Linked DNA regions of Homo sapiens. The protein of the gene in region 1 purifies or fractionates together with the protein of each later gene. This does not show direct contact. Each region holds a gene or a part of one and is shown in the gene's direction. Other genes may lie near its edges.

What was found.
Region 2: the proteins of RASL10A (region 1) and RAP1GDS1 purify together in Homo sapiens (affinity purification with mass spectrometry; 3 studies listed by BioGRID and IntAct, with this or other methods). This does not show direct contact.

Annotation. Positions count from the first base shown.
Region 1 is NC_000022.11:29,312,898-29,318,847, reverse strand, and holds RASL10A (ras-like protein family member 10A), read left to right. Parts: upstream 1-3,150; 5' UTR 3,151-3,601; coding exon 3,602-3,820; intron 3,821-4,860; coding exon 4,861-4,985; intron 4,986-5,279; coding exon 5,280-5,547; 3' UTR 5,548-5,915; downstream 5,916-5,950. UniProt on the Homo sapiens protein: Potent inhibitor of cellular proliferation.
Region 2 is NC_000004.12:98,421,783-98,426,471, forward strand, and holds part of RAP1GDS1 (rap1 GTPase-GDP dissociation stimulator 1), read left to right. Parts: intron 1-4,689. UniProt on the Homo sapiens protein: Acts as a GEF (guanine nucleotide exchange factor) for the Rho family of small GTP-binding proteins (G proteins) that stimulates the dissociation of GDP to enable subsequent binding of GTP.

The DNA of each region.
Region 1 (5,950 bases):
CCACTGTGTGCCTAGTGCCAGTCCCCTCTGCTGAAGGAGAAGATGCATGCATAGTTGGCAGGTGGTCCCTGGAGCCCTGGATAGGGGCATTCAAGGAGTGCCCAGGAGGCCCCTGGGGAATAGGGATTGGAGGGGGGCAGCAGGCAGGAGGCCTACAGCCTTTCCTTGGGGAAGGAATGAGGGGACTGATGAGAGAACCCTGAAATCCACATCCCAGGCAGACAGGCAGCTTCAGCCCCCCAGCCTGCTGGTCTTTAGGAAGCCTGGCACAGGGCTGCACACTCCCATTAGAGCTCATTTCAGCCCCTGTGGATGGGGGGCTCCACGGGACCTAGAGGCCTCCCCAAGTCCCTCCCGACAGGGGGCTGAGTGGTCACTGGGGGCTGAGCTTCAGTTGAGTACTTCCTGAGAACCCTCTGGGTCCAGATGAAGCCAGGCTTCTCAGCCAGGCTCTGGAGCCCAAGGGCCTGGGTTCCGGCCCCTGTGCTGCCATTTTCCTGCTAGGCAACTGTGGCCCAATCATGGCGTCCCAGGGAGCCTTAGTGAGCATGAGGCTGTGGGTCAGGCTTGGCACATCGCAGGCCCTTGATAAATGGGCACTGCTGCTAGGAACGCTGCTGTGAGAGTCTCCTAGGGAACATGGCACGTTTGCAGGGCTTCATGGGAGCCTCAGGACGTTCCCAGTCCACAGTGCCCCTTCCCCTCGCCATCCAAAAACACATACTGGGAGCCAGAGACGCCTCACACACAGCTCTGTTTGCAGTGTCGGAAGGAGAAGCAAGGAAAGTTTTTCAGAGAAAGAATACCCAGGGGTGGGCGGGAGTGCGCCTAGCATTGAGAACACCTTAAAAAAGACCGTCCTGGCCGGGCGCAGTGGCTCATGCCTGAAACCCCAGCACTTTGGGAGGCTGAGGCGGGTGGATCACCTGAGGTCAGCAGTTCGAGACCAGCCTGACCAATATGGTGAAACCCCGTCTCTACTAAAAAACACAAAAATTAGCCGGGCATGGTGGCATGTGCCTGTAGTCCCAGCTACTCTAGAGGCTGAGACAGGAGAATTGCTTGAACCCAGGAGGTGGAGGTTGCAGTGAGCCAAGATCGCACCACTGCACTCCAGCCTGGGTGACAGACCGAGACTCCATCTCAAAACAAACAAACAAAAGACCGTCCTGGTGTCAGCTTTTCAGACTTCTGGGTTTTGTTGTTGTGTTGCTGAGTGCCTTGTTATTTACTCCTTGCCTTGTTCCCCGAAGGAATTGAAGCAGCTCACAAAACCCAGAAGCCTGAAAAGTCAAAAACCCAGAAGTTTGGCCAGATGTGGTGGCTCACGCCTGTAATCCTCGCACTTTTGGAGGCTGAGGAGGGAGGATTGCTTAAGCCAGGAGTTCAAGACCAGCCTGGGCAACATAGTGAGATTCCACCTCTACAAAAAATAAAAATAAATCAGCTGGATGTCGTAGTACACACCTGCAGTCCCAGCTATTTGAGAGACTGAGGCAAGGAGGATCACTTGAACCCAGGAGGTTGAGGATGCAGTGAGCTAAGATCACACCACTGCACTCCAGCTTGGGTGACAGAGCAAGACCTTGTCTCAAACAACAAAACCCAGAAGTCTGAAAAGTTACAACGTGAAAGAGGACATCAAGTGAAGGGAAAAATCATGGTAGGAAAGAAAGATGAAGCCAGCAGTCCCCACTCACTGAGCTAGAAGACCTGGAACACTAGACAGAGGTGGTTCTGAGCTTCCTAGTGGCTGAGGAGAGGAGTGAAAGCGGACCCCAGCCCCCGATCTAGCATGGGAGGATGAAAGCACAGCCATTGTTCTGGAGACACTTTCTGGTTGTCATTATACAGGCTCCCTGGAGGATGTGCCTCCTCCCCCTTCAGGATTTAGCTCCTCTACTTCCCCTGGGCTGGTGTGGGCACATTGTCTGTGCTTTGACAGTCCCTAGATCCCATGTGTTCTAGAACCTTCTCTCCCAAAGCAGAACTTTTTTTTTTTTTCCTGTTTTCTGTTTTTTAAATCTATCTCAGCCTCCTGACAAGCAATAAGATTTGGAATATTTGTTGAGGGGATAAATAAATGAACTCCTTAGTCAGTGCAGAGATCTGTGCATTGCGGCCATTTCTTGAGCATTGCCGCCATTTCTTGAGCATTGCCATGTGCAGGTCAGAGACGTGGGAGCCCCCACACAGCGGGGAGGAGAGCAGAGGCGGAGGATGGGGGGGCTGGGCTAACCCAGGCTTTCCAAGCTGTGATGGGGCAGGAGCTTCTCCACTAGCTCGAGGGAGGGGGAACTTGGGCTCTGGGCGCCTGTTTTGGAGGTTGCATCCCTTTGAGGGGCGCTACGGGTTGCAACTCACGCAGGAAAGGTGACCTTAGTAGTGATGGAGGTGGAGTGGGCCAATTTCTGGATCTTTATTTAGTCACCTCCAGCCTTGCTGGGACAGGGATCTGGGGCTAAGCTGCTGTGGTCTCGGCACCCTCTGTCCCCACTTCCCCTCGAGGACGGCTGTTTGAATATTGTCTAGTGTGGGCCATTTACCCCCGTGGGCAGGAGGAAGGTAGGAGGGACTTCAAAGGAGACTTCAAGGGCCCCCCCACTGCCCTTCTAACCTTGCAGATTCCCCTCTCGGGCCTGTTTCCTCTTCTCTCAACCAGCGATGCCAGGCTGAGGCTGTAGGTTCGAGAATCACGTAGGTAATGGGCCTGGCACATAGTAGGCTCTCAAGAAAAGGTTGGAGCCTCTTGAGGAGTCTGCCTGTGATGGATGCGGAGCGCAGACCCAGCGCAGTGCGGCGATTCGCCCAAGGTCACACAGCCGCCCCCCCCAATTCGGACCCCGGGCGGCCTGACTCCGGGGGCCGGGGCTTGTCGGGAGCCAGCGTGGGGGCGAGCAGTGTTTGGAAGAGCGGCCGCGGCAGTGGGTGGGAAGGGGCTTCTATTTTGGAGCGGGTGAGAGGAGCGGGACACGCGGAGGAGGTAAGGAAGGGGTAGGCCCTCTCCGGGATCTCTGTCCCCCAGTCACCTTCCTGCGACCCTTCCTGGGAGGGGCGTCCTGGGCGGTGGGGGAAGGTGGGAGGGGCGGGCGGTTACCTCATCGCCGCCTCCGGGAGGCCCCGCTCGCTCGCGCCGGCGGCTGGGGCGGCGACTCCAGGCGCGGAAGCGAGAGAAGGATAGAGGCACAGAGGCTCCGGGAGGCAGCGCTGCCCCCCGCGCCCCGCACCGCTGCGGGACCCGCGCCGCGAGAGGGGCGGACTTCGGCGCCTCGCGCGTCCGCCGGCGCCTGGGTTGGCGCTGCGGGGCGGAGGCGGTGTCTGAGCGCCGCTCCGGCTCTGCTCTCTCTCGAGCTTCGGCACCCGCCCGAGCCGCTCGCGCGCCCGCCACCTGTCTGCCCACTCGGCTGTCTGTCTGCCCTCCCGCCGCCAGCTCCTGCCTCGGGCCTGCCCTCTCCGGTCTCGGTGCTCCGAGGGGCGACGAGAAGCGCGACGGGGCCGTGGCGCACCGGGCAGGGCGCGCGGGGCGCACGGCCTGGGGGCGCACGGTGCGGCGCCGGCCCATGAGGCTTTCCAGCGCGGGGAGCGACAGCGCCGGCCGGCCATGGGGGGTAGCCTGCGGGTGGCCGTTCTAGGCGCCCCGGGCGTGGGCAAGACGGCCATCATCCGCCAGTTCCTGTTCGGTGACTACCCCGAGCGCCACCGGCCCACGGACGGGCCGCGCCTCTACCGACCCGCGGTGCTGCTCGACGGCGCCGTCTACGACTTGAGCATCCGCGACGGCGACGTCGCTGGCCCCGGCTCGAGCCCCGGGGGTCCGGAGGTAGCGGCTCGAGGAGCGGGCAGGGGCGTGTGACAGTGTGAGGGGTGTGCGTGCTCGGTGCACACGTGCGTGTCCGCGTGGAGGCCTCGGGCGCCTGGCTGTGCTCCGGGATGGAGGGATGTGTGTGCGTCCTGGGATACTTGCGTTTCAGCCCTTCCCGCCGACCTGGAGACGCCCAAGCCCAGGCTGGAGGCCGGGCGATTTTGCCCAGGGGCGTTCCCTTGCTCCTGTGAGCGCCTCCACCTTTGCCTGCCTCGGCTGGGGGTGTGGAGCAGCTCTTGGTGGTGCATAACGGTGCCTTCCCGAGAGTGTGGCGTTTTGTGTTTGGGGCCTTGAGCAGAGCTACAATGGGAGAGACTGGGGTCAGGAGCAGGGGTGTACTTTCTACGGGGGCTGGTGGAGGGGTTCATTCTCTGCCCTATCATTTTTGTCCCCTGGAGCGAAGACTCGTTTAGTAATTTGTGCAAAGTAAAGGACAGACCTCCGACCCTAGAGCAGTGAAGAGGAAAGAGCAGGCAGGATTAAGCAGGGCTTCCTGGAGGGAGTGGCATTTGAGCTGAACCTGGAAGACCGAGTGAAGTTCTGAGTAAAGGAAGTGGCAAAAACATACCAGGTGGAAAGACCAGCAGGTGCTTACGCTACGGTCATAAACGGTTACAGCTGACAATCTGGGGGCGTGGTGGACCACGGGACTCGGGCCAAGGGCTTTGGAATTAGTCTTAGAGGCCGTGGTAAGCACCGAGAGCATCTAGGGAGGAGAGCGGCCTGAGCCGAGTTGGGGAAAGCTGAAAAGAGGAAGATTCGGGGTAAACAGAGGGGAGACCAAGGATGAAGGAGGCTGGCTGACAGGCTCCAGGCACGATTTGGAAAATTTTACCCTGGTGGTCATGAGGAGACGGCCCGGAAAGCTTGGGGGAGGGGCACAGAGGTCTGTATGGGGGTGATGTTGGCCTGAGGATTAGCGTCCAGGCCCCTGCAGAGGGTTCGAGAGCGGAAGAGTGGAAAGGAGGCTTCCGCAAACCCTGGCCTCCTGTCCCCAGGAGTGGCCAGACGCTAAGGACTGGAGCTTGCAGGACACGGACGCCTTCGTGCTCGTCTACGACATCTGCAGCCCGGACAGTTTCGACTACGTGAAGGCCCTGCGGCAGCGCATCGCGGAGACCAGGTAGGGGCCCGGCAGTTCTGGCGGTGGGGAGCTAGGACAGGTCTGGCAGGGCCTTTGCCTGAGGAGAGTGTGTAGGGTCTCCCAACGTCGTGGGCCGGGTCTTAGGCCTTCGCCCGTGGGAAGGTCTTAAGCTGTATGTGCTCTTTGGCCCACATGGGCCTGGGGTTTCGTTGGGGCGGCGGGGGGGGCGGTGTCTCTGGCCGTAGGAAGGGAATGCGCCTGCGTGTGTATACCCACTGGGGGAATTCTCCGGCCGTGGGGTCCCCGCGTCTCTCATCTCCATTCGGCCCCCAGGCCGGCGGGCGCGCCCGAAGCGCCCATCCTCGTGGTAGGCAACAAGCGGGACAGGCAGCGGCTGCGCTTCGGACCGCGGCGCGCGCTGGCCGCCCTAGTGCGCAGGGGCTGGCGCTGCGGCTACCTCGAGTGCTCCGCCAAGTACAACTGGCACGTGCTGCGTCTCTTCCGCGAGCTGCTGCGCTGCGCTCTGGTGCGCGCGCGCCCTGCACACCCGGCCCTGCGCCTGCAGGGGGCGCTGCATCCCGCGCGCTGCAGCCTCATGTGACCCGATCGGACAGTGCCATCCATGGGCCCCACCTTGTGACTGGGACAATCAGGGACCTGGATTGGACGGGATCGCCCAACTTCACTGGGACTGGACAGGGAAGTCTCCGCCCTGATTGGATGAGGAAAGCTCCAACCCAGTCTCCTAAGCGACTGGCCCCCTTTTGAACCTCATTGGACCCAACCAGGTCCCAAGCTCCATTGGAGATGACCAGTCCTTTCTGGGACCTCAATGGGTCACAATCCCATTGGATGGAAAGGACTTGGCTATGAACTTGACTGGAAACACGCAGCCTGCTCCTGGAGCTTCACTGGACATATTCTTTATGCCACACCTACCACGGGATAATAAAAGGGAAAATAATTTGAGTGCGCCTGGGATTTCTGGGCTGGGCGGGATAACG
Region 2 (4,689 bases), on another chromosome or scaffold:
CATGGTAGATAACCAATAAATGAACAAATGAGCTATTTTAAAGATCACAATAGTGAGTACCCAGGCCAGCAGTTCAGCAGCTGATTTAGTATCTAGATTATATGATTTTTAAATTTTTTAAATACTGTTTTCTTGTTGGGCGTGGTGGCTGACACCTGTAATCCCAGCACTTTGGGAGACTGAGGTGGGCAGATCATGAGGTCAGGAGATCAAGACCATCCTGGATAACATAGTGAAACCCCGGGTCTACTAAAAATACAAAAAAAAATTAGCTGGGCGTGGTGGCGGGCACCTGTAGTCCCAGCTACTCGGGAGGCTGAGGCAGGAGAATGGCGTGAACCCGGGAGGCGGAGCTTGCAGAGAGCCGAGATTGCACCACTGCACTCCAGCCTGGGTGACAGAGCAAGACTCCGTCTCAAAATAAAATAAAATACTGTTTTCTTTTTCTTTTTTGAGACTGAGTCTTGCTCTCTCGCTCAGGCTGGAGTACAGTGGCACAATCTCAGCTCATTGCAACCTCCACCTCCTGGGTTCAAGCAATTCTCCTGCCTCAGCCTCCAGAGTAGCTGGGATTACAGGCAGGCGCCACCACACTCGGCTAATTTTTGTATTTTTAGTAGAGATGGGGTTTCACCATGTTGGCCAGGCTGGCCTCAAACTCCTGACCTCATGATCCTCCCACCTTGGCCTCCCAAAGTGCTGGGATTACAGGCATGAGCCACCATGCCCAGCCTTTAATACTGTTTTCTAAGGTGACCCTTTCAGTCATTTCTCTTGTACAACTTCAGTAGTGATTATATATGAGGAGAAAGTTTAGAACTCAAATCCACCAGCTGTTTTCATTTATTTTTAGAACAGATAAGAAGAAGATGCCAAGAGAAAAAACGTAAAACTAAAGCTGTTCTTGTATAAATCTCTTTCATATAAATAATTGGCTTCACCATAATAGCTGTCCCAGCTGGTAAGCCTCAGGAGTGTTCTTCTCCATCAGATGCTAAATCTTGAGAACTTTCCCTGGGGAAAAGCAGCTGTTAACTAGGACCTTCCTATTACCTGTCTCACCCAGACCACCCTAAAAGCTCATACATTTTTCCTGACACAGGACCAAGCAGTATGTTGGCAAGGTGGAAGTTGTCAGGAGAGAATAGCAAAATGGCTTCCTTGGTACCCCTTTGACCCCTTCTCCATCATAACTGCTCTCTCACGCCCATTTGTTCATTTAACAGTTAATATTTGAGTTCTTGCAGTGTAAATACTAAAAAATAGTGTTTCTATAAAGGAATTAACTATCCGTTGAGGGGACAGAAATAAAAACAGCTAGCTTAAGTACAGCTTTAAAGCTACGTATGCTATTCGGGTGTAACAGAGGAAAGAAAGACTAACACACTGTCTGGGTAATCTGGGATGGTGCCATAGAAGGAGTGCTATTTTAGGCGTTAACTAGGAATCTCAGGAGGAAAGGGAAAGAGAATGAAGGAAAGGGCCTTTTCAGGCAAAGACAGCAGGATGTACAAAAGCACAGAGATGTAAAACAGCATAATTTTTTAAAGAAACTGCAAATAAAGCAGTATTGCTAGAACACAGAGTGTAGAAAGAGACAGTAGCCAGAGAGGTTGAAAACTGGGAATTAAGTGAATTATATACCAAGTTAAGATATATGGACTTGATTCTGTAGAGAATTCGGGAGCACTTAAAGGGTTTTAAGCAGCAAGTTGCCATTATTTGAGGGTTTTTTTGTTTTCTTTATTTTTTGTTTTTTTGTTTTTTCGGGGTTTTTTTGAGACAGAGTTTCGCTCTTGTTGCCCGGGCTGGAATGCAATGGTGCGATCTCCACTCACTGTAACCTCCGCCTCCCGGGATCAAGTGATTCTCCTGCCTCAGCCTCCTGAGTAGCTAGGATCACAGGCGTGCACCACCATGCCCGGCTAATTTTGTATTTTTAGTAGAGACGGGGTTTCTCCATTTTGGTCAGGCTGGTCTCAAACTGCCGACCTCAGGTGATCCGCCTACCTCGGCCTCCCAAAGTGTTGGGATTACAAGCGTGAGCCACCACACCCAGCCATTTAGTTTTCATTTAGAAAGATGTCTCTAGGGTTTAATGGGGGTAGAAAGGACAGTTATTGCAAAAATATATATGAGAGTTGATAAAGGACTGAATTAAGGTTTTGAGTTGAGCAATTTGAAATTGCTGATATTCAGCCATTTTTGAAACAAATTTCATATGGGTTATTCAACTAGAAGCAGCGAGGATGGAAAAGAAGAGACAGACCTGAGAAAAATATGGGTGGTAGAATTGACAGATTCAACAGTAGAATTAAAGGAGGAGGTAGTTTTAGAGCTAATTCCAAGTTTGGGGTTTACCACCAGATTGGGTTATCATGCCATTCAACAAAATAAAACACTATAGGAAGAGGTGCAGCTAACACTCCCTAAACTTGCCCACTCGCCCATGCTCTTTGGAGTCATTACCCTTAATCTTTTTGCTCTACTCCAAGAGAATCTCCACCATTGGTTTGCAGGGGTATACAATCATTTGGATTTCCCTGGGCCATATTGGAAAACGAATTGTCTTGGGCCACACATAAAATGCACTAACACTAACAATAGCTGATGAGCTTAAAAAAACAAAAATCACAAAAAAAACTCAAACACCTGTGGCATTTGAAGAAGAAGAGAAATCTAAAAGTTTAGAAAACCAGCTGAGTGCGGTGGCTCACGCCTGTAATCCCAGTACTTTGGGAGGCCAAGGTAGGTGGATCATTGTGGTCAGGAGTTCCAGACCAGCCTGGCCAACATGGTGAAACCCCATCTCTACTAAAAATGCAAAAATTAGCCAGGCATGGTGGCGTGCGCCTGTAATCCCAGCTACTGGGGAGGCTGAGGCAGGAGAATTGCTTGAACCTGGGAAGCGGAGGTTGCAGTGAGCCAAGATCGTGCCACTGCACTCCATCCTGGGTGACAGAGCAAGACTCCCAAGACTCTGTCTCCAAAAAAAAAAAAAAAACAAAGAAAACTTTTGGAAAACATATTTGGGAGAATAATCAAGGAAGACTTCTCCAGTCTTGCTAGAGACCTAGACGTCCAAATACAAGAAGCTCAAAGAATACCTGGGAAATTCATTGCAAAAAGATCATTGCCTAGGCATATTGTCATCAGGTTATCTAAAGTTAAGACAAAGGAAAGAATCTTCAGAGCTGTGAAGCAAAAGCACGAGGTAACCTATAAAGGAAAACCTATCAACTTAACAGTGGATTTCTCAGCAGAACCCCTACAAGCTAGAAAGGATTGGGGCCCTATCTTCAGTCTCCTTAAAGAAAGCAATTATCAGCCAAGAATTCTGTATCCAGTGAAACTAAGCTTCATAAATGAAGGAAAGATACAGTGTGTTTCAGACAAACAAATACTGAGAGAATTCACCACTACCAAGCCAGCACTACAAGAGCTGCCAAAAGGAGCCCTAAATCTTAAATCCTGGAAACACATCAAAACAGAACCTCTTTAAAGAATAAATCTCACAGGACCTACAAAACAAAAATACAATTAAAAAAAAAGTGGGGGGTATACAGGCAACAGATAGCATGATGAATGGAATAGTACCTCACATCTCAATACTAAGATTGAATGTAAATGGCCTAAATGTTCCACTAAAAGATACAGAATTGCAGAATAGATAAGAATTCATTAACTATCTGCTGCCTTTAAGAGACTTACCCAACACATAAGGACTCACTTAAGGTAGAGGGGTGGAAAAAGACATTCTATGTAAATGGATACCAAAAGTCAGCAGGAATAGCTATCTTGTATCAGGCAAAACAAACTTTAAAGAAACAGCAGTTCAAAAAGACAGAGGGACATTATATAATGATAAAAGGCCTTGTCCAACAGGAAAATATCACAATCCTGAATATATATGCACCAAACACTGGAGCTTCCAAATTTATAAAACAATTGCCAATAGACCTAAGAAACAAGATAGACAGTAACACAATAGTGGGAGACTTCAATACTCCACTGACAGCATTAAAGAGGTTATCAAGACAGAAAGTCAACAAAGAAACAATGGATTTAAACTATACCCTAGAACAAATGGACTTAACAGATATTTACAGAACATTCTACCCAAAACTGCAAAATATACATTCTATTCATTAGCAAATGGAACTTTTCTCCAAGATAGACCATATAATAGACCACAAAACAAGCCTCAATAAATTTTAAGAAAATTGAAATTATGGCAAGTACTCTCTCAAACCACAGTGGAATAAAACTGGAAATCAACTCCAAAAGGAACCTTCAAAGCCATGCAAATACATGGAAATTAAATAACCTGCTCCTGAATGATCACTGGGTCAATAACAAAATCAAGATGGGAATTTAAAAATTCTTTGAACTGAACAATAAATGATACAACCTATCAATACCTCTGGGATACAACAAAGGCGTTGCTAAGAGGAAAGTTTATAGCCTGAAATAGGCATTTCAAAAAGTCTGAAAGAGCACAAAGAGACAATCTAAGGTCACATTTCAAGGAACTAGAGAAACAAGAACAAACCAAACCCATACCCAGCAGAAGAAAGGAAATAACCAAGATCAGAGCAGAACTAAATGAAATTGAAACAAAAAAGACAATACAAAAGATAAATGAAACAAAAAGCTGATTATTTGAGAAGATGAATAAGATTGATAGAC